Homo sapiens: one gene and its partners. The protein of the gene in region 1 interacts with the protein of each later gene in a pairwise test. Each region holds a gene or a part of one and is shown in the gene's direction. Other genes may lie near its edges.

What was found. The genes of interacting proteins can lie anywhere in the genome.
Region 2: the proteins of PMP22 (region 1) and CLEC12B interact in binary tests that used the Homo sapiens proteins (3 or more experiments, as listed by UniProt).
Region 3: the proteins of PMP22 (region 1) and TMX1 interact in binary tests that used the Homo sapiens proteins (3 or more experiments, as listed by UniProt).

What each region holds. Positions count from the first base shown.
Region 1 is NC_000017.11:15,229,279-15,234,326, reverse strand, and holds the end of PMP22 (peripheral myelin protein 22), read left to right. Parts: intron 1-1,713; coding exon of another isoform or gene 1,714-1,784; exon of another isoform or gene 1,785-3,246; coding exon 3,247-3,410; 3' UTR 3,411-4,548; downstream 4,549-5,048. UniProt on the Homo sapiens protein: Might be involved in growth regulation, and in myelinization in the peripheral nervous system.
Region 2 is NC_000012.12:10,004,883-10,014,685, forward strand, and holds the start of CLEC12B (C-type lectin domain family 12 member B), read left to right. Parts: upstream 1-5,744; 5' UTR 5,745-5,877; coding exon 5,878-5,968; intron 5,969-7,902; coding exon 7,903-8,001; intron 8,002-8,922; exon of another isoform or gene 8,923-9,640; coding exon 9,641-9,803. UniProt on the Homo sapiens protein: Inhibitory receptor postulated to negatively regulate immune and non-immune functions. Upon phosphorylation, recruits SH2 domain-containing PTPN6 and PTPN11 phosphatases to its ITIM motif and antagonizes activation signals.
Region 3 is NC_000014.9:51,242,046-51,251,305, forward strand, and holds part of TMX1 (thioredoxin-related transmembrane protein 1 precursor), read left to right. Parts: intron 1-1,810; coding exon 1,811-1,926; intron 1,927-2,044; exon of another isoform or gene 2,045-2,179; intron 2,180-3,267; coding exon 3,268-3,313; intron 3,314-5,046; coding exon 5,047-5,175; intron 5,176-7,280; coding exon 7,281-7,326; intron 7,327-7,422; coding exon 7,423-7,524; intron 7,525-7,647; coding exon 7,648-7,720; intron 7,721-9,260. UniProt on the Homo sapiens protein: Thiredoxin domain-containing protein that participates in various redox reactions through the reversible oxidation of its active center dithiol to a disulfide and catalyze dithiol-disulfide exchange reactions.

The sequences.
Region 1 (5,048 bases):
TTGGATCACTCTGCTCCTTTCAATACTGTTAGCTACTTACTCTTTGAAGCTCTATTCCCCTGGCTTCTGAGACATCGCTGTGTTCCCACTTGCCTGAGTGAACACACCAGGCGGTCATGCTGGCCTCTCCTCTCTCCCTCACCCCACAGCCAGCCTTCTACTGAATCCTGCATTTGGGTAGCATCCTCCGTAGGCATTACGCCCATTTCTTTGTCTTGACTCACTAACCCCAGTGCAGCTATGCAAAGGCCTCCTCATGCACCTTCCAGCTACCTGCCTTGTCCCTGCCCCTGAATCCATTTTCTGCACCATGGCCAGAGTGATCATTCTAAAACGTGCGTCTGATCATGTTTCTCCTCTGCTGAAGTTTCCTCAGAGGCTTCTCATCACAGCTTCCTTAACATGTCATGTAAGGCCCTCTCTTTCCTGACCCTTAGTGAGCTAATCAGCCTATTATATGAGAGTCCGTGTGGCTTCTCCAGTTCTCCAGTTTGGACTCAGCGCCCGTCTATGCTCTTGGGGCATCTGGTGCATTTCCTTCCCTCTCTCGAAATTCCATCGAACTATATTGAAATTATATGCAAATGTCTGTCTTCTAGACACACAGTCCTTAAGGTAGGAGCCATGTCTCACTTATCTTGGTACATCTAGAGCAGCAGCTAGAACAGGGCCCGCATGCAATAGGCACTCATTAAATGTTCACTGAACCAAAGGGAATGGAGATGATAAGGATGTACTGGGAATTCCCTCAGCTACTTCCTTTGACCTTGGCCCCTTGGGTGCTTCCTTCCAGAGGCTCTGGGCTCTAATCACTCTCATGGGGTTGCAGTCACTGTTAAAGGAGCTTAAGACTTTCTCTTCAAAAGGGCTTTAGGCAGAACTTGCAGGAAGTTGTTGCAGACCTACCCATCCTGAGACAGGGAGAAACTCTTGTAAGTTGAATGCTCAGCACATTTGTATTGTCTGGACAGGGTCAGTGTCCTTCTGCTTAAAGATGACCTATGCTCCCAGACTCAGGCCCCTACCAGGGAGTCCCGGTCATTGCCAAAGAGCAGAACATCTGCCTGTGCCTCAGGGCCTCACTTACCCTTGCCACAGGGACCTGGTGATACATCTCCACCTACTGGTTGCTGAGAAAGTGAGTCACAGTCCACTTACTAGGGGTATTTGGCTTTTGGAGATGACTACTGGATGACATTAACTGTCTTGGGTTGCAGACAGAGGGAACCCAGCCAAAGAATCATCCTTTTCTCTATTTCAGGGTACATCTATTGCTTTACATGCAGACAATCTTGTAATAATATATTCCCTAAAACATCAGTCTCATGACAACAATCATATAAAGTGTGTATCCTCTCTTTGGCTTTGTAGATATCTAAGTTTACTGCTTATCACGGTTAAGCTTAGAGTCATTCACTTCTGAGATTCTACTAAGATGAAAGTCATACACATTAAGCTGTGTAGTTAGTCGCTGCACTTCTCTATACTGCCTCTTTCTATCCCTCTTGTTCAAGGATGGAATCTGGTATCTCCTCTTAGTCAGTGAAATCGGGGAGTAGCTGGTCCACTCAGCTCCTGAGGCATTTCTCATGCCAGATCTGGTTAGACAGCCCATTTGGGAGCCCTGCCTGCATGATGATAAGTGTTGTCCTGCCCTGCTAGCACTCTGTTAACACCTTTCTCTCTGCCAAGGTCATGTTTCCTTTTTTATAGCCCTGCCTTCATTAGATAAGTCAGACAGAGCCCAAGAGACAACTTCAGTATTTCTTAAAGACAAGAGTTAGCACTTTGGAGATGCAAGCCGTGGAAGAGTGGGGCAAGATAATTAAGGATCCTGGACCTCAAGGCAAATAAAGTGTGTCCCCAGCAGATCAAAACTGCTGTTTTCTGCAATCAACAATTAACCCGCAATGATTTCGCTCCTGACATGGCCATCTTTGCTGTCTTCTGAACTTCCTGTAGGTGGCAGGTCCTGGATGCTGTCCCATTTTGGTTCCAAGACTATTGTGTGGCTCTCTTGACAGGGGCCAGTCAAGTGGCAGTTTTCTCCTCTGAGTTGCAGGAGGACAGGCTTAACAGGGTGGTTCATGTGGCGTATTCCCACTTCTGCACTGTCTTCAAACAAAGTTGCAGTGTCCAGTAAAACAGCAGCCCAAATAGCAGTGAGGTTAGATGTAGGTGGCCGGGCGGTGGGGGGGCGCGGGTGCATTGGGAACTCTGGAACTGCATGAATCCCACACGGCATACTGGATTTATAATAGAGTCACTCAGAGCTTCTCAAAGACCCTGTTTTCAGGGAGGAAACAGACCAGGCTTTGTGCAGCTCCAGGCTGGGGTGCTGACATCACTGGACCCCTCCTTGTGGGGGGACGCTGTCTGTCACGTGAGCTGGGGCCATCAGTTTGAGCGTGGCTGCTCCACAGGGCCCAAGATGGAGGCTTTTCTTCTCTTTCCAACACCGAAGGGCTGCATTGGTGGGCCAGGGAGGGTGGCCTGACCCACCTGCATATCCAGTGCCCTTTAGCCTTCTTTGGGCTTCAAATGCAACCTTGGGGCACCCAGGGAAATGGAGCTTGCCTTTGATCATCTTCCCCCTCTGCAGCGTGGCTTCCCAGTCATACTGTCGGCTGCATCCTTATTCCTCACTTTCTTTTTCCCTCTCCACACATTTCTTTGTCTGTTTGGCAGTGCCCATAGGCATTGCTTGCTTCACCTGGTATGTGGCAACTCTGTTAGGGGGACCATAGGCCCCTGTGGTCTGCATGGAGCTTAATCCTTTTACCATGGCGTGACTCCAATAATGGTAAAATGTCACTTCACTTCCATTGGCTTTAGGTAATGCCACCACTCACTTGTAGAGTGGCATATAGATTTCCAGGGGTTTCCATACCCAACCACCCTTGGAAAGAGACAGGTAGGTTTTTCTTGCAGCCTGAATGCCTGCTGGCCATGTAGTGTGGCCTGGGAATTGGTGACAGTGAAAGAAAGAGAAATAGGGCAGAAAATGTAAAGAAAACCCTCAGGTATTAAGGCCTAGGTGGCCAAGATTGGAAATAGAGAGCAAGTTGTTTTCCTTGTTCCCATATTTTTGTGCTACCTCCTTTCAATTCTGGACCTGGAAGCAGATTTCCTTCCAGAGGTAGAAATGTTCTTCCTACCCAGCAATTGTCAGCATCCGGGGTGGCGGAGAGGGGGCCGCTCTGCCATGGACTCTCCGTCACCCAGCTTGTCCCTCTCCTTCCCCAGGTCTGTGCGTGATGAGTGCTGCGGCCATCTACACGGTGAGGCACCCGGAGTGGCATCTCAACTCGGATTACTCCTACGGTTTCGCCTACATCCTGGCCTGGGTGGCCTTCCCCCTGGCCCTTCTCAGCGGTGTCATCTATGTGATCTTGCGGAAACGCGAATGAGGCGCCCAGACGGTCTGTCTGAGGCTCTGAGCGTACATAGGGAAGGGAGGAAGGGAAAACAGAAAGCAGACAAAGAAAAAAGAGCTAGCCCAAAATCCCAAACTCAAACCAAACCAAACAGAAAGCAGTGGAGGTGGGGGTTGCTGTTGATTGAAGATGTATATAATATCTCCGGTTTATAAAACCTATTTATAACACTTTTTACATATATGTACATAGTATTGTTTGCTTTTTATGTTGACCATCAGCCTCGTGTTGAGCCTTAAAGAAGTAGCTAAGGAACTTTACATCCTAACAGTATAATCCAGCTCAGTATTTTTGTTTTGTTTTTTGTTTGTTTGTTTTGTTTTACCCAGAAATAAGATAACTCCATCTCGCCCCTTCCCTTTCATCTGAAAGAAGATACCTCCCTCCCAGTCCACCTCATTTAGAAAACCAAAGTGTGGGTAGAAACCCCAAATGTCCAAAAGCCCTTTTCTGGTGGGTGACCCAGTGCATCCAACAGAAACAGCCGCTGCCCGAACCTCTGTGTGAAGCTTTACGCGCACACGGACAAAATGCCCAAACTGGAGCCCTTGCAAAAACACGGCTTGTGGCATTGGCATACTTGCCCTTACAGGTGGAGTATCTTCGTCACACATCTAAATGAGAAATCAGTGACAACAAGTCTTTGAAATGGTGCTATGGATTTACCATTCCTTATTATCACTAATCATCTAAACAACTCACTGGAAATCCAATTAACAATTTTACAACATAAGATAGAATGGAGACCTGAATAATTCTGTGTAATATAAATGGTTTATAACTGCTTTTGTACCTAGCTAGGCTGCTATTATTACTATAATGAGTAAATCATAAAGCCTTCATCACTCCCACATTTTTCTTACGGTCGGAGCATCAGAACAAGCGTCTAGACTCCTTGGGACCGTGAGTTCCTAGAGCTTGGCTGGGTCTAGGCTGTTCTGTGCCTCCAAGGACTGTCTGGCAATGACTTGTATTGGCCACCAACTGTAGATGTATATATGGTGCCCTTCTGATGCTAAGACTCCAGACCTTTTGTTTTTGCTTTGCATTTTCTGATTTTATACCAACTGTGTGGACTAAGATGCATTAAAATAAACATCAGAGTAACTCACTGGTCTCTCTTGAGTTTTTGTGGGAACTTGGGTGTGGGTACAAGGTGCCTGTTGGAGCAGGATGAAGAGCTTCAGTGGAAAGCAAAGTTGAGCTGGAGATTTGGGTTACAAGATGGTGCTAAGGCACCAAAATCATAGCTGTTTTACAAGCTACAGGGAGCACATGATGCCTTCATGATGTCTGTGCAAAGGTTTGCTAATTGGAGACAGTTGGGAATTGCAGCTGAAATGGAGGCTGTAAATGGACTGGAAGGCACTTGAGTATTCATTTAGTTCAACCCTCTCTGGTGCTCTGTTGTTTGATGACCCACATGGAAAACATGGAGGCATGTCATGAGCTGCCCTGATATACTGGGAATGTTGGCAGAAGCATCTCAGATCCCTCACCCTGAGGTATGATATGGTGAAAGGTCTGAATGATGGTGACTTGAGGCCACACTTGCAGATAAAACATTGGTTGGCACCAACTAAGCTCCTAATGCCATCCTGAAGGAGAGAA
Region 2 (9,803 bases), on another chromosome or scaffold:
TTAGGTGTATCTCCTAATGCTATCCCTCCCCACTCCCCCGACCCCACGACAGGCCCCGGTGTGTGGTAGGAACAACCCTCTTCTACCCAGTATTTCCCTGTCTCTTGTCTGAATCAAAGAGAAAGTGAAATGATCTAGTATATTTGAATTAAGGATTCACAGAATGTTAAGTATATCTACTATTGTACTTTCCAATTAAAATTACTATAAAACTTCATGGCAGGGACTATTAATTAATCATTTATTTGAACATATGTTTACTGATCACTGCAGATGTCCAAGGCACAATTCTATTTTCTGGGGACCAATGGTTAATGAATTATACAAGCATTTAGCTTATATTATAGTAGAAGGTGGTCAGCACAGATAGTAAAGAAACATAGAAAGCAAAGATCAAGATAATTGTATATCATGGAAAGTGTTATGAATGAAGAAAAGTGATATAATCGAGTTCTTCTGGACAGGCTCAAGCAGACCCTCGTTGTGCTCATGAGGATTGGTTTGTTTAAGCTTCACTGTCAGTGCTTGGACAATTGCCCAGGTTTCTTCCATTTTTAATATGATCCAGAATAATCCAAACTTGCTTCTACGATGACAGCTGCCATTTATTGCTCTTTCTATATGCTTTTATCAGTTATATTTGTGGCAGGAATTAAATTTATGACAGATTTACTATTAAGAAAAATAAAGCACAGAGGTTCAATAACTTGCCGAAAGCCACAAGGCAAGTAAGTGTTGCTCCAGGATTTGAATCAATTTGTCTGTCTTCATAGTGCTTCATTTTAATTGGGATATTTTATTATGCTGGTCAGGTATATTCACCTGATGGGGTAAATATATTAATACATTTCAAAATAAATTCCATCCTATATTCATCCTCTGTCTCCTTCTTGTGGCCATTTATTTTCCTTCTGCTTTTAGTTTATTTTTGTTTCCTTTAAGTCTTTGATACCTCTGGCTTTCATCTTCACTTTTCCCTATTTCTTTTTTGTAAATAATTCGGAATTAATTGTCATTCTTGCCATTCTCTGGGTACTTTCCCATTTAAACCCCACTTTAAAAGTGTCCTCTGAAATAGGCATGAAATGTGAGAACAGAAAGAACAGAGTGAGAATGAATCCTTCTGTCATGTTAACTCAATATTTCTTTTAAGATCTTCTAAATCAATAATACTTCCACATTTAATAACTGTGTTTCCATATTTTCCAAGGTGAACAATATTTTCTGACAAGTTTAATTCATGTGAGAGCAGCAAGAATTGTCAAAGGTGATTCCAAGTTTTTAGCTGAGAAACTGTACGTATGGAGTGTACATTTGTTAAGATGAAGAAACACATTGGGAAAAGGTACCCATTTTTTGATGTGTTAAGCTAGAAAATCCTATAATATATCAAAGTGAATATGCCAAGAATCCATTCAGATACGTGGTCCTGTAGATCAAGCGCTGGTATGGAGATAACAATTTTTGGACATTATCAATGTATGGCTGTTATCTCAAGGCACGAATCTATAAGAAATTAATTCCCATTCTGGCCATTCTCTGGGTACTATTCAATTTAGTTCATTCCAGGATAAGTTTTTTGTTTTTTTTTTAAGAAGACCAAGAATTGAACTCTAGGACACAACAACATCTTAAATTAATTTAAAGAGGAATCAGTTAATCTGAGGGAGGATTGGGTTGTGAGTGAAGCAAAAGGAAAACCAAGAGAATGGTGTCCTAGGGAACAAAGCATTTTGGAGAAGAAAGTTTGTCACGAAAAGTGAATAATCAGTTATTTAAAATTCTGTTTATACGATGTGTAAGATGAATCCTGAGAACTAGCCATTGGATGTGTTTATACTGAGGTAATGTTGACTTTAGCAGGAGTGTTTTTTAGAAATAGTGAAAGAAGGGCCAGGCGTGGTGGCTCACGCCTGTAATCTCAGCACTTTGGGAGGCCGAGGGGGACAGATCACGAGGTCAGGAGATCGAGACCATCCTGGCTAACACGGTGAAACCCCGTCTCTACTAAAAATACAAAAAATTAGCCGGGCGGGGTGGCAGGCGCCTGTAGTCCCAGTTACTCTGGAGGCTGAGGCAGGGGAATGGCATGAACCTGGGAGGCGGAGCTTGCAGTGAGCCGAGATCGCGCCACTGCACTCCAGCCTGGGCAACAGAGCTAGACTCTGTCTCAATAAAAAAAAAGAAAGAATAAAAATAAAAAAAGAAAAAAAAGAAATAGTGAAGGAAAAAGCCTAATTAGAATAGGTTTGGGAAGATCATAGAGAAATTTTTGAACCCATTTGTTGTTAAGAAAATTAGAGAAATGGAGTGATCATGTGTATGGTGTTACGGTGAACAAAAGATGGCTTCTGCTTGTTTTAATATAGGAGATATTATATCATCTTTGGAAGTGAACATAAGTGAACAAGTAGAGATGAAAAAAATGGAAAAATTGATAGAAAGAGAAAAAGAAGGAAAATTACAAGCTTGAAATCTTTAAGGAGATAGGTGGATGGATTTTAATATACAGATGGAGATTGATCTTAGATGAGTAGTACAATTCAACCACTGTTGAAAAGAATACTACCTCATATACTGATGTAGCTGTTTTGGTATATTTGACTAGTGAAACAGAGAAAACTTCTTTCTGAATTTCTTTTTTTTCTTAAGATAATGTTAATGGAAAAGCCAGGTTATCCGTTTAGTTTGTAGAAAGAGAAGACAGAAAGAAATTTGAGAGTCTGAGAAAGAAAAAGAGATTGGGAATAATCTTTTAGGAGATTTGCAGAACAGATTGATTAGTAAGAGTGCTGAGAAGTTACATTTCAAAAACGTAAGATAAAACCAGTTAATATGATCACATTCAGCTACTTGAATGTATGCACAGAGTAGGTAGGGTTGGATTTAAACAAGCTGCATTTTCTAGATGCTTATGATGAATGAAGAGGTAAGCAAGGAAGTTGTAGCTGTGGGTAAGAAAACGATTTTTATAATTGGCCCTGGTAAGTGGTGCATGCTGGGTATAATAGGAAATGAGACATGAGGGATTGACAACAATGAGAAGTTGGCATGGTCAGTGAAGTTGCTATCTCAGTGGGCACTGAAATGCTGTAGAGTGTAGAATACCCAGAGAGAGTGGGCTGGAAACATAGGAGGTGGAGGTCAGAGAGTGAAATATCTGAAACAGATCATGGAAGAATTTCTCATATTGGAAATGAAATTGTCTGCACTCTAGTGCAGTGCTGTTCAATAGCCACGTTGCTAATAATGGAAATGTTATTTACCTGCACTGTCCAATTGCATAGCCAATGCCACCTGTGGCTGTTAAGTACCTGAAGTATGACTAGTGTGACCTAGGAAATAAATTTTAAATTTAATTTAATTTTAATTAATTTAAGTTTAAATAGCAATTATATGCCTAGTGATTACTACGGTGAATAGCCTAGCTCTAAACTAGGATCATCTAGTGGGTGACTGATTTTTGTGTGTGAGCAACTGATTTCTGAGTGTGGGTAAGGTTATTGGAGGCAAATTCAAGAACTGAGAGCCCATAGTATTGGAATTATCACCTACCTGAATGTCGAAATCACATGATAATCATGATAGGAGTAGAGATCAATAAGATTTAAGATAGTTGAAAAAATAATGAAGAAATAAGGAGAATTTGGTAAATGACTGCAACAAAGTGAGTTTTTAAATAGTGTAACTGATAAAATAAGCTACAGAAATGCTGTAAGTTTTTAAGGGAGAAAAGTATATAAAGAAATGTCTAAATTAATATGATCATACACTAATAATGATAGATGATATAGCTTTTTGGATCATAATAATAGAAAGTATGTGAGAAGTGTTATCAATCTTCTCTTAGAAATAATTAGGAATCAGGTGACATTCTTCATCATTGTTCAAGCTAAGCATCATTTCATGGATAGTGAGAAGTTAATACTTTGTTAGGAAGCTTTAAGGTATGTGAAAGAATTAAGGAAATGAGGATGAAAACCCAGTTTTTGCAAAATCTGGTGAAAGTCATGAGACGTGAGGCCAGCCAGACTTCCTGAATCGAGTGGGGACTCAGGGAACTTTCCTGTCTTACAAGAGGATTGTAAAACGCACCAATCAGTGCCACGTAAAACGCACCGATCAGCGCTCTGTAAAACGCACCAATCAGCAGGATTCTAAAAGTAGCCAATTGCGGTGAGGATTGAAAAAAGGTCAGTCTGATACGACAGAAACGGAACATGGAGGGGACAGTAAGGAAATAAAAGCTAGCCACCCCAGCCAGCAGCAGCAACCCGCTTGGGACCCCTTCCATGCTGTGGAAGGTTTGTCATCCTGCTCTTCACAATAAACCTTGCTACCACTCAGTCTTTGGGTCCGTGCCATCTTTAAGAGGTGTAACCCTCACCGCAAAGGTCCGCGGCTTCATTTTTGAAGTCAGCGAGACCAGGAACCCACCGGCAGGAACCAACTCCGGACACGGACCAGAACAGAGATAGAAAACCATTCTTAATTTCTTATTTTTGTAATCATCTATTTAAACTGGTCCTCATGTCAATGGTCTCTGCCTTTTCTGAATTCAACTAGAATAGTAAACATAAGCATAGATTTATTATTTGTTTCAATATTTTTGATAGTGGAGTTTTATTGATATATGACTTAGAGCCTCCAAACATTTTTTTGATTATTTCATCAATTTGAAAAAAAAAAAAACAAAAAACATGAACAAGTAACATATGTATATTTAGGTGTTTAGAGATCATGCACAGCGTTCCTAAAGAGAAAGTTTTTACATTGCCTTTCTGCATCTGCTTCACAGCTGTGGGGTGAGTGCACCTCACGCTGGACACCTTTGACTAAGATAATCTCCACACAGATATGAACCTTGGAAGTTTTAGATCACTCCCCACTCATCTGAAACCACAAAACTCATACCCAATCCTTCCCCTAAGTACAGTTATCTAATATTCTGCCTCTCCCCAAAGGAAAGCTTTAGAGGAGATTCCTTAATTTCGTCCCTCATATATAGCGCTCCCCCCCCATATTTTCCTGGGTTCTGTATTAACTACATATTGCTGCTGTAACAAATTACCACAGATGTATTAACTTCCGGTAGTTATCTTTTTAAAATCTTGTCCTGTGTATTCCTTGCTGTCTGCAGGATTATCCCATGGTTGTTGTTCTGTTAGGAACTTTCCCAACCATGCCAGAAGAGGGCACTCCCATTCATACTCACGTTAAGTAGCTAAGTAGCTATCAGTTTCTTCTCCATGCTCCATTACCAACACCATGTCTCTCTCTCTCTGTCTCTCTCTCTCTGTCTCTCTCTGTCTCTCTCTCACACACACACACACACACACACACACACACACACACGCTTGAATTTTCTATAATAGCAGCCAGGTGTGTGGCACAGCTCTTTCTGTCTTAATGTGTGTCTCTCTGCTTAATATCTAATGTGGCTGAGAATAAACTAGAACCAATGTCTCCAGGCAGATTAGCTAGCCTTAGATAGATGTAAAGAAGACAACCTGACTCTTTTCTGAAACATTCAGAGCATCCTCTACCCCGAGGATCATGGGAATTCCCTCATGTTCCTCCTGCTCTGCCTCAAGCACCCCTTCTTTGCTGCACAGCAAGAAACAGTTCTGACAGAGCAGACAGTTTGAGATCTGTAACATTCTAATGAGAATATCTCTAAGGAGAATATTTGGCTTTTCTCACTTTCTCTGTAGAGAAACAAATTGTCATTCTTCTCTTACAGAGGGGCAGTAGAGTGTGTCTGGGTCAGCTGAGTGACTACATCAAAGCTCCCAGCCTTGAAAAACACATGCTGTTCCCAGGCCTCAAGATATTGAAACATTAATTAGATAATTTAAAGTAGCGTTTTCTTCTACAATGTCTGAAGAAGTGACCTACGCGACACTCACATTTCAGGATTCTGCTGGAGCAAGGAATAACCGAGATGGAAATAACCTAAGAAAAAGAGGTAGGAGTTCAGAGAAGACCAGCTGTGTCCTTGGGGGAGTGGACAGGTGTTAAATGCTTTGAGGTGCCAGCTTTAATACTGGCGTTAAAGACATGTGCTGTGAAATCTCCAAAATGGGGACAAATAGTTGTGGAATGTATTAGAAAAGTGAGTGTTCCCAAGGTTGAAGTGAAAATATGTGGCTTTCAGAACCTCTTTAAAGTTGTGTGATATCACACAGTCAGAGAAATTCTGACTGCACATGCCAGAAATTGAGCTTGGGGAATTAGAGATTTCTTCTTATGAATATAATCCTTGATATTTATACCTTGTTAGAGATGCCAGGAGGATATTCTTTCAGAAACCAGATTGGAGGCTTCTAAAATAGAGAAGGTAGAGGACGTTTTTCTTTTAGATGATGTAAGTTACTTAAGAGAAAACTGGAAGATGAGTGAGTGGATTAGAAATAGATCAGAGCTAATTTTTCTTTTGTCAGTATTTTTTCAAATTTTAGGGTAGTTGAAATCCGAGCATAATTTGTAATGTTGAACCAGTAATAATAGTATCTGGGTAGTATTTTATGTACATTATATACAGATATAATTGTAATGAAAATCCACAATAATATTCGAATATTAGTATTTTCTCCATTACATAGATGAAAAAACTGAGGGTGAGAGAAATTAGATAATTTAAGCAAGCTCACACAACTGCTATGTGGGGAAGCCCAGTCTCAGTGCTGGTCTTCAGCTCATTCTCTTATGCCTAATTGGAAAAATAGCAGTCTCCATGGTCAAGACTCTGATTTAATATATAAGACCACATCTCTTATTTTCAGATATGTTAACTATCCAGGTTCTCCTGAATCATGTCAGTCATCTGAACTACTTTCTCCTGCCCTCTAGATTTATCTTTACATTTTGTGTGGTGCATGACATTTGAGGGAAGGATATTTACAAAAAGCCGATGGGAATAGACTTTGCATATGTCTAATAAATGTGGTTACACATTTTTGCCTTGTTTTGTTTTACTTTTTAATTCTAATTCTAACCTGTGAGGAAAAAGGAGGTGTGGATATGGTGCATATCACAGTGTACCTAGAGTCTGTCATGCTGTATCTAAAACATTGCGCTAGATGTTATTTGGACCTAAATCAAGGGATATGAAGCTAAGGAAAACATGACAACCATTGATATTTTAAACAACAACAATGACTAGGATGCTAACGGCTTTCTGGTCTATTCTGCTGTTTGTAGGTTAGACTGCACATTCTTTCCTTCTTTCATTCAGTATTCATTCATTATTTATTAGGTGATAAATAGCATGAATAATAGATAAGTTATTGTTAACAGGTAAAAGATACTTTAAAAAGTCGAATCCACTTTTACAAGGCAGATAGAACATGTGCCTTATAGAGACTTTTGAGCTCAAAAGCTTGAGGTGTCTCCTACTGTCAGCATCATCCAGAAAAGCAGTTTTTAGATCTCTCATTTATGAATTCAATAAACTTGAGGAAGAAAAGTGGGCAATGATGTAAAACAAAAACCTTGAAATTAGGAGAAGCTTCCTTTTTATTTTATTATTATTATACTTTAAGTTTTAGGGTACATGTGCACAATGTGCAGGTTAGTTACATATGTATACATGTGCCATGCTGGTGTGCTGCACCCATTAACTCGTCATTTAGCATTAGGTATATCTCCTAAAGGTATGCCTCCCCCCTCCCCCAACGAAGCTTCCTCTTAAAGTGAAGGAGAGCGGTGGAGAAATGGAGGGGAAACAAGGATGGCACCCTCATTGCACTTCATATTAGGTATTTTCTAAATGAGGGCATTAAAGAAGCAAGAAAGAAACGTTAGTATCGGGAAGCTCCCTAAGTGGGAGAAATAAACAAACCAAAGTGAAACAAGCACAAAGCAGTTCTGTGTGCTGATTGCTCTTTTGGCTTTCTCCAGGGCATCCAGCTCCATCTCCCATTTGGCGTCATGCTGCTCTGGGTCTGGTAACTCTTTGCCTGATGTTGCTGATTGGGCTGGTGACATTGGGGATGATGTGTAAGTATATCAGCATCAAACCCAACAAAGGCAACTAGAAAACATATTGTAAACCATGTACTTTCAGCTTGGATTGTAGATGGGTCCTAGCATCCTGAATCGTCTGATACTTTTCTGCTGTCTCATATCTCTCCTATTCGTCATATCTTCCCAAAAAACCGGCAAAAGACATTATCAGGATTTGGTTCTAAATTCATTGTTTTATCTTGATAAGCTAAACTGGACTTAGACAAAGACTCTTTGTTTCCAGTTATTCATTAGAATAAAGAGCCTCTTTTCTGCCTAGACACACATTCACTTATCATTCCAATGCTGAGAAATAAAGTCAAGAAATATGTATTGAAGGAAGTGCTTGCTATTTTTATTTACCTGAAAGACTTAACACTAGACTAGGTTCAGTCTGCTTACATGAAACTTCTCTAGTGGAGAGAAATCTTCCAAGTAGCAGCAGCAGCCTGATTTCTATGAATGAGAAAGACATATAAACAAAGAGGAAGAGTGGCCTGATACACCTTACCAAGTAAGAGAGTTGAACCATCTCCACATGACAATGGAAGCTCCACTCTCAAGCACCACAGCCACAAAGGAACATTCTATTGATTCTGACCCATCCTCGGGAAGTTGGGGATGAACATGGTAGGGAGTTCTTGAGTAATGAGAAAAACATCCTGAGAATACAAACTTTATAGGGTTGTTAAGTATATGGTATACAGAGTAGTGAATTGGCATGGTATTCGCTTACAGGGAACTCACAGTCAAGAAAGTTAATTTGCTGAATGATACTAACATCTCCTCTGCTACATTCATTTCTTTTTAATGATTTAATGGATAATTTTTTAGGATTTAATGGTTAATTAGGATTTGGACATATCTTTGCCAACATAAAAAGAGACTAATGATGTACCTTGCTCTTTTGAAAAGGAATATGATGTTCAAGCAGCAGTAACAGATATTCTGGAGCCAATCAGTATGAGGATTAGCAGCCGATCTTCTACAATAATGTATATTTAAAAATTAAGTGAAAATGCAATAACGTACGTCCATTGGTTCGATATAGAAGGGTGACATTTCTTTTCTAAAATTTAGTGCTTTTGGTGCAGTGGTTCTTAAATTTGTTGTGCTGATGAAGCACCTTAAATGCTTATGAAAAGGGCATATTTCATGGACCCATGACGAGAAATGGTCTGATATGCCATTAAGATCTGCTTTTTCTTTTCTTTTGGTAAACAAGCATCTCAGGTCATCTGCAGAGTTTGAGATATCCATTGTCCCAAAGAATGCTGTTTTCATTAAAACAACAATTACATCATCTATCTCCAAATAAAATAAAACAAAAATAAAACAATTTCATGAAAATGAGTGGCAGAATGACTGGCCCTTCCTTAGATGTGATGTCAGAAATATATCATTATTAAATCATTATTTTAATATAGTGCAATAATAAAAATGTAAATAAAATTATAAAGAACTATAAATAATTTGGAATAGAAAGGCATCTGGTTTGTTTCTTTCATGATACCTCAAATACTAAGAGCTACTAATAAATCTTGAACAATTAAGAAATGTTTCTGTCACGAGAATTATCTACAGTTATAAGAATAGAAGAATATATGAACTTGTCTCCTGTCATGTCTTGGAGTTTTGCAGATATCTAATGACATTAACTCAGATTCAGAGAAATTGAGTCAACTTCAGAAAACCATCCAACAGCAGCAGGATAACTTATCCCAGCAACTGGGCAACTCCAACAACTTGTCCATGGAGGAGGAATTTCTCAAGTCACAGATCTCCAGTGTACTGAA
Region 3 (9,260 bases), on another chromosome or scaffold:
TTGAATCTGGGAGTCAGAGGTTGCAGTGAGCCGAGGTCGCACCACTGCACTCCAGCCTGGGCGACAGAGTGAGACTCAATCTCAAAAAAAAAGTAGAACATTTATATGGAGGGTAAGATAAAGGGAAATTTTCATAGTATGCATGTAGTCTGCAATTCTGAAATGAATTTTCATTCAGGCACCATTGAAAGCTTCAGGGGAGAGGAACTGTGACACTTTTTCAGTCATCATCATGAGTAACTTGTTTTAGATCGTGCCTGTAAAATAGTGTTATAAGCAATATATTAAGCAATAGTGATCGTGTGTGTATATGCAAAATACAGTCAAGTATTACTCAAGGATATTTTTTAACTCATTATGGTCCAACTATATAAATACAGCAATCAGAAGTAGTATTAAGGAGAACAAGACTAACAAAACATTGAGTATGAGGTAAATCCACATTGGAGCATCTATCTGAAATTATGCTATAGAGTAGTAGTTTTTCTTTTTCCTTAAGTAGAGATTCTAAAGTAAGTTTTTAGAAAGCAACTGACAGCCTGGGCAACATGGCAAAAACCAGTCTCTACAAAAAAATACGAAAAATTAGCTGGGCGTGTGGGCAGGCATCTGTAGTCCCAGCTACTTGGGCTGAGGTGGGAGGATGTCTTGAGCCCGGGAGGTTGAGGTTGCAGTGAGCCCAGATGGCGCCACTGCCCTCCAGCCTGGGTAACAAAGCGAGACCCTGTTTCAAAAAATAAAAAAGCAACTGAGCAACAAAACGAACCTGAAAAAGAAGGACTCTAGTAGTTTTAGTAATAGTCTGCTCCTAATTACAAGTGAATTATCTACAGTAAATCCATTTCTGCTCAGAAGTTTTGTCATGGAGATATTTTCATTGTAATACGATTTATTGTTAGGAGCTTGGCTTTTATACTACCAGTTTGTCTTGTTCTACAATGTCTATTTTAGGAGTTTGGTTTTCATAAAACAAGTGAAGAAAATGTGAAGTACAGAAAGTATAGTTTTGTGTTTAACTGCTTTAGGCTTTATTCTTCCTGGTTCTGTTAAAAAAAAAAAAAAAAAAAGAACAACCCTGTGGTGTATTATAAGATAAAATACAATAAAGTGGAAAAATAAGATCCTCAGGAGATAATACCAGAGGAGTAATTTAAATGCTAATATGCTTGCATTTGTAAATCCAAGGTCTTGGAAACAGGATGACCTAACTGGCCAAGAGTTTTGTTTGGCCTGCTTAGTATTTGTGTGTGGGTTATTTTTTGAGGTAACATTCTCATATAAAAATGCAGCTCTCCATCTTCTTTTAAATATGAATAGCCAGCCTTAGTGTGCCAGCATCCTTAGTGGCAATCCTACTTAATAATGGTTGCCACTTTAAGATGGAATATGTGCTTTCTTATTCACCACAGCCCAGGACACTTCTGTTTTTCCAACACCTTGCATTTGTGACTCTGCATTATAAATTATTAAAATTGGTAAGCTCTAACTTTGGTCTTGAGCTTTCTGGTGGCCACACCGTTAATAGAGAAATGCAAAAGTTTTCTAAAGAGCTGTTTTGCATGTGAAAAAATCCTGTGTCTTATTCTCAGAATTTTATTTGATTAGCATCATCAGTTCATCATTCTTGATTTCCGGATTGTTAGATCTACCCTTAAAAGTTTTTCATCTGCATAAAATTAACCACCTTATCATCTTCAGTGTTTTCATATGAAATATTCTTCATAAATTATACATTTAAATTTTTTATCCCAAGATAAATGGTCATACTAAAGTGCTTAACTTTTTTTAAAAAAAAATCTGTATTTCTTAGTTATGCCCCGTGGTGCCCTGCTTGTCAAAATCTTCAACCGGAATGGGAAAGTTTTGCTGAATGGGGAGAAGATCTTGAGGTTAATATTGCGAAAGTAGATGTCACAGAGCAGCCAGGTACTGTAAGTCTTTGGTTAGTTTTGTTTCTTTGCTGTTTGGGTTGATATATTTATCCTTTTTTCTACATTGCATAGTCTTAATTCTACCTTTCTTTAGGTTTTGAAAACCTAACAGTCTGCAGCTAGTTAACCTGACTTGTCCACCTCCCTGCTGGGGGCTCAGTGTGCAATGGTTGCAAAATGGAGATTCCCTGGTTGTGTATACACCTCATTTCTTGAATGTGTTGCTTTAAGGGTTCTTGAAGACATTACCCTCTTTTTATTCTTGCCCACATAACTGCCTCTGATTTGTTGTTCTTTGCATCCCAGGCCCCAGACTAGTATGTAAGATGCCTTTGAGAAGTCCTAGGACACTGTGGTTCAGGTGAACATTGGCCAAGCCACATTTGCATCCATACCAGGCTTCAGAATAAGGAGCATGTGGTTGAGTGTTTTTCTGGAGTCAAGGTCACGTTCCCTGACAAAAGAAGACCTGAATCTCTGAAATTGAGTTTTAAATTTAGTACCTATGATTTGAGGATGTGGGCTTCTAAATATAAAGCCCTCGTGGTTGTGAGGTCAAGTGCACTCCTGACTTGGTCCCTGGACAAGTGGCAGGTCCTGCCCTTAAGGAGGTTCCTTCCACAGACCAATCTCATCTTACCGTTCTCGGTAGTCACACTACCCTTGGATTCTTGGCTGTCCCATCCCAAATGGTAATAATAGGTAATATTTATCGAGCGCTTGCCTATTATAGCACTCTTCCAAATATCTTGTGTTTATTATTTAATCCTTATACAACCCCGTGAAATATGTAATGTCCCCATTTCACAGATAAGAAAACTGAGGCACAGGTCAATTCTCTGTAATATCAGTGCTTGACACATGGCTAACAATAAATGTTAGCTGCTATTATTTTTGCCTGTCTCATGAAAGATTCATAGTATTTTCCATTTTTAGCAGCACCATAAACTGCCTTTGTTTGTTGAATGTCAAGTACAATTCCATTGGATTTTAGATCTAAGACCCTATTACCTTGTGCTCTCCCATGAGCACAAGGTGCTCTTATTACTAGTAGTCTTAATTTTGACAGTGATATAAATGTTGAAGTGTTTTTATTTAAAAATGTATTCAGTACTCTAGTTCTACATACTTTTTAACTGAGATAATGTGCAGTATTGTGTTTTTTAAAGTTGCTTTAAGTACATAATTCATTTTTAAATTATGTATTACGAAGCTCAACTATTAGGTATAATTTCATATTCTTTCCTATTAGTATGTATTTAAATAATTCAAAGTCACGTTTTAAGTAGTCAGTGATTGGCCTATGTAAAACCTGCTGTGTGTTCTTTATTTGTAGGACTGAGTGGACGGTTTATCATAACTGCTCTTCCTACTATTTATCAGTAAGTATTTGAAGATTCTAAATTATGGAGAAGGATGCATTATAGTGTAATCAGAAGTAGTAGGCCTCTGGCTTGGATCATGCTGGAAGAGCTGAGGTAATCTCATTATATTCAGCAGGTATTTTAGAGGGCTTGTTTTGCTTAGTGTTATCCTAGGTGCCTTTAGGTAGTTGAGTGATGTGTGAAACAGTCTCTGTTCTCAAAGATTTACAGTTGTTTTGGAAAGTGATGTTCTTGTGAAATGGTGTGATCCTGTTCAGCGTGTTAAGTCATTATGCATCCAAAGTAGTGGTGAGTCCTGTAGGTAATTGGATAAAGGAGAAATCACAGTTACCTGGATTGGTTCCCAGAGAATATGGGGTTTAAATGAAACCTTGGAAGTAGAATTTTAAGAGTGGAGCGTAAGCATTTTATTGTGAGGACAATCTCATAAACAGTCATTAACAGGAACATGTTATGTCCAAAAAGTAGCTAAGAAAGTGCTGTTGTACAGCCTTGGGTAGAGTAATAGGTGACAGTTGGGTAATAAAACAGAATGAGCAAGATTATGTAGTCTTCAGTGTCAGGTCTATTAGTTTGACTTTATCTTCTAAATTGAGGGTATGAAATCTCAAGTCTGTGTACCCCAACATCATGTAGCTGGTAGGTTAAATACCAGGAGGTACTGAAAATAAGTTGACAATTCTTTGTATTTATAGCTTGCTTTTCTTTGCCCTTTTTTCTTTTTTTTATGGTTTTAAAATTCACCCCTACTCCCTTTACATCTATATAAATTTCTGTTCGCTGTCTCCATAAGTGCTTCTGTCCTGCCCTTCTCATTCAGTCCTTTTCCCCACGTGCCCCTTCAGTCTCTCCCTTTGCTTTTCACTTCTTAGTGCCCTGTGACCTTATTTGGAATTTCCTGCCCTTTTTCTTTTAGTCAAAATTGTTTACCATATCCTTTCTCCTGTTTCCTGCCTGTCGAAATCTTACCTATGCTTCAAATAATAGCTCAAATGACACTTCACAAAAACTTTGTGTTTTGGGGTGGGGGGCTTCCTCGTGGTTTTTACCTCTGAGTGGATAAAGGGTCCCTTAACCCTACTTAACAGGTCCCTAGTAGGGAGCTGATGAGTTTTTGCACTTAAAGATGTTGGAGCCAAGAGAACATTTGTGACTCTGACAGAACTTTCTACATTGGGAATGGGAAGGAGGAGGTGGATCTAAGGAAGGCTGCAAAGCTCACTAAATAGTCACTGAAATGAGAGGAAGGGAAGCACCATACCAGATGCCTCCAGTGATTTAAAGCAGGGTGTCTGAGGTGATGCTATTATAGCCAAAAGTACTAGAAAAATGCCTTAAAATTTTAAGTTATAGCTTAACAGCTAATAATTACTATGTGCCAAGCACTATTCTAATAATTTTTATATAATTCTTTTAATATGTGTATTACACATAAGGCTTAAAAGTACTTTCCTGAGATTTATCTACTTACTGTATTTCATAGTTTCATTACTTGGAAGAATAACAGTAATTACATTTTAAGGCTTATGATTTAAAAAAATGTAACCTCATTGTTAAATTGGGGGCTAAAATGTCATGAGTAGGTAAATAGTATAATTTGCTATTAATACTTGTACATTGCTAATGCTTTTGAATGTTAGAATTGACTGTAAAGTGAAGTGAAAAAATAGCAAAATAAATATTAAATTATTTCTCAGTGCTGGATAATATTTAATTCTGATTCTCTTTAGTTGTAAAGATGGTGAATTTAGGCGCTATCAGGGTCCAAGGACTAAGAAGGACTTCATAAACTTTATAAGTGATAAAGAGTGGAAGAGTATTGAGCCCGTTTCATCATGGTTTGGTCCAGGTTCTGTTCTGTAAGTATGAGGGCTTTTTCTCTTACCCATTTCATAATTAATTGGAACAGATAATTATATTTTATGTAAAGCATTCATACTCAGTTTGTTTCTTGAGCTGTTAAGGTATATCCACATTTATTACATGTTTGATTTTTTTTTTTTTTTTTTTTTTGAGATGGAGTCTTGCTCTGTCGCCCAGGCTGGAGTGCAGTGGCGCAATCTCGGCTCACTGCAAGCTCTGCCTCCTGGGTTCACGCCATTCTCCTGCCTCAGCCTCCCGAGTAGCTGGGACTACAGGTGCCCACCGCCACACGTGGCTAATTTTTTTGTATTTTTAGTAGAGACGGGGTTTCACTGTGTTAGCCAGGATGGTCTTGATCTCCTGACCTCGTGATTTGCCCACCTCGGCCTCCCAGAGTGCTGGGATTACAGGTGTGAGCCACTATGCACGGCCTACATGTTTGATCTTTTTAGTTTGACCTTCTAAGTCAAACATATTTTCATGCTTCTTGAGTTAGAGAAGGCATTTTATAGAAGTAAGTTGTACACCTTTTCAGGAATATTTTAGCTTGCTAGATTTGGTCATATGTATCATCAAAAACTAAATGCCCCTAAGAGTCTTCACAGTGTAATGGGTAAAGCTATCACTCGAGTGTAATAATTTGAATGAGTAGGCTCAAACTTGTACTCATGCTACCTCCAGACTTCAATTTGTCTTTTAATGTTCTGTCTCCATAGAGACCGTCAATAATTGCCGATACCAACTAAATTAATTACATAAACTTCAACTCTTGATGTCAAGCGACTGAATTATGTTTGGTTGGTTATTCCACCTGTCTGATAACTTCTTATATGAATAGTGTGTATAAACGGTGACCGTAATAGTGTGCCTAAGCACTGAGCTTTATAGATATCTAGAGGGTAGATGAATTTCCTCGTAGCAACTGGCTATGGAGTGATAAGGATTGGAAGTAGCAAGCATGCTTTCTGCTTTGCTGTTGGAGTACAAGGCCTCACTGGTCATGTGAGAGACCTCTGGGAACAGTGAGTTTTGCTGAGGTCACCATGGACTGATCCTGTGTGGCCATCTGTCTCTTCCTGTCCTCTCACCACACTTACCTTTGGAGGATAGGGAGTTGGGACAGTAATCACATAAGAGAAAAATGCTCTAGATTCTGGGGATGGGAGAAAGATTAGCCCTGTTAACACTCACCCATTGAACTACCATGCCCAACTCAATTTTGGATCCTACTGTTTCTGAAATAAATTACTGCAGACTACAGTGAGGCTATACAGTGCTTTATGTTTCAGTTCCTTGTTTCTCTTCTCACTTGGCTTTTAAACAACAGAAGCAACATGATTAAAATACCTTTCTGTGTCGAACTAAAAGTATAACTGATTTTTGTTCTCTGAAATCTCATCTCATAAATGAATCTTGTCCTTCCAGTAGAAGAAAGTAGTTGCTTGTAAGTCTATTTTCAAGCAGCTACAATTGGGAACTCACAGACCTTTCTTATTTCTGAAACATGCCTTTTTAAAACTGGCCATTTAATTATGTAAAATACTAATTTTTGCTTATATGATGACTTAGCATTTATTTCCTATGTAATAATTTTGTATATCATTAAAAGATGTCAAACTAATGCTCTTGTAAATTTTAATTAATTTCAATAAAAAAGAGGGATAGTTCTTAAATGGAAAGAATTGGCTTGACAATTGTTTCCAGTCCTTACTTTAGCCTCCCTTTGGTCTTGCTTTGAAGGCTTTTAAGGGTGAGTAAGAGTTGCCTTTTCCAACTGGTTTCATGGAACTTGTAACCCTTTACTCAGTGTATTGGAGAAATCATCAGATGAAATACAAAATATTAACATCAAAACAGTGGGAGAAAAGGAAAAAAATACTGTCAAGTATTTTTATTTATGAGGCTGTCACATGGTAGTGTCAATTTAGAAACAGTTTTCATGAAGAAGGCTTATTACAGGCATGAAATCAGTGATGTGTCACTAGTCTTGATTAACAGCAATAAAATCTGTCATATTGGGGAAATTATAGAGTAGAAAATAGTATGTATAGACAAATCTGTGTATGTTACTCAGTTTTTTAATCATCTCTTTTATTTTTAGGATGAGTAGTATGTCAGCACTCTTTCAGCTATCTATGTGGATCAGGGTATGGACTAAAATATTTTTATCTTAAACATTTTTACCACTATCACTTTAACAAAAATGAACAGATTTTTAGTTTTTTTTTTTCTTTTGATTTTAGACTTGCCATAACTACTTTATTGAAGACCTTGGATTGCCAGTGTGGGGATCATATACTGTTTTTGCTTTAGCAACTCTGTTTTCCGGACTGTTATTAGGACTCGTAAGTATTTCATTTTTGGAGTGCTAGGAAGAAAGATATTTAAAAATGTGATTATTTAAAATAGTTACATTAGCTGTGGCATATATTCTACATTCAGATTTCTTACAATGTTTATTTTTACAGTGTATGATATTTGTGGCAGATTGCCTTTGTCCTTCAAAAAGGCGCAGACCACAGCCGTACCCATACCCTTCAAGTAAGTATATTTTAAAATGTTTATTTTTTATTCACGATAGTCCTATTCATTTCTGTAATCACAATCACACATTTCACAGGTTGCTCTTCCAGCTTAGAATTCTAACTGTGGATTGTTGGTCTTTATCAGCTATGGCATAAAGGAAGGTAGAGGAGATGTATATTTCATATAAGAATGTAGCCCAGTGGATTTTGGAACATTGTTATTTTCTTGACTCTTATATTATGGGGAATTTTAACATTGCATATAGCATGTAGCTATTTAATAATATTTATTTGGTGTCGTTTTATAAGTGGAGTATATTCTACTCTTGAAGTCTTTCATTAGTATACCGGCCGCCACATTTGAAGATTATTCTTTGAATGCCAGCCAACTGTAAGTTTTTTCTGGTAGGATATTGGGAAAAGCAATCCCTATAGTTGATTTAGGATGCCACTGACACTGAACTGTACTACAGAACAATTTAAATAATTACAAGCATTTACCAATCTTGTAATTGTACTGTTAATGGAAGCATTTATATTTGCAGTTCTTAAAGAACTTTTACTTATCTGTTACCTCGTTTGCTCTTCAGCACCTCTGTAGTAGAGTGCATAGGTGTTACTGCTCCCATTTTGTACTTGAGGAGACTAAGGTTCACAGTCACACAGAAGTGACAAAGCTGATTTTAACTAAATCAGACTTGTGGCCTGATATTCCTTCATTTATTATGTCTTTTGTTTGTTTGTTTGTTTGTTTGTTTTTGAGACGGAGTCTCGCTCTGTTGCCCAGGCTGGAGTGCAGTGGCGCGATCTTGGCTCACTGCAACCTCTGCCTTCCGGGTTCATGCTATTCTCCTGCCTTGCCCTGCCGAGTAGCTGGGACTACAGGTGCCCACCACCACGCCCGGCTAATTTTTTGTGTTTTTAGTAGAGACGGGGTTTCACTGTGTTAGCCAGGATGGTCTCGATCTCCTGACCTCGTGATCCGCCAGCCTCGGCCTCCCAAAGTGCTGGGATTACAGGCGTGAGCCACTGCGCCCAGCCATGATGTCTTTCTTAACTTAGCTTATTGAGATCAAAATTTCCGAAATGAAGTCTATGGAGATTGAATTTATAGTGTACCTTGTCCTTTCATACTGGTAGGTCATCTTTTCATTTCTTAGATAGTTGCATTGATACTAAAAAGGACATGCATAGGGGATGGAATCATTTTATCCAAAAAGGGCCACTGATGTCTAGGAAAAAAACGTAAGCACAGATTACTTAAAAGACAAATGTATTGTTAGGTTTAAGGTTTTTGAAGTGAAATGAATATAAAATGTTTACTCACCAACTTTTAAATTGTGAATAAAATGTAAGATATAATTTAGTAGATACAAAAGATAGATATATAAAAGTAGCTATACCGATGGTCCCTGACCTACAATCATTCAACTTAAAATTGACTTTACGATGGTGCAAAATGAATATGCGTTCAGTAGAAACCGTACTTTAAATTTTGAATTTTGACCTATTCTGGGCTACTGGTATGGAGTACTTTTGTGATGCTGGGCAGATTA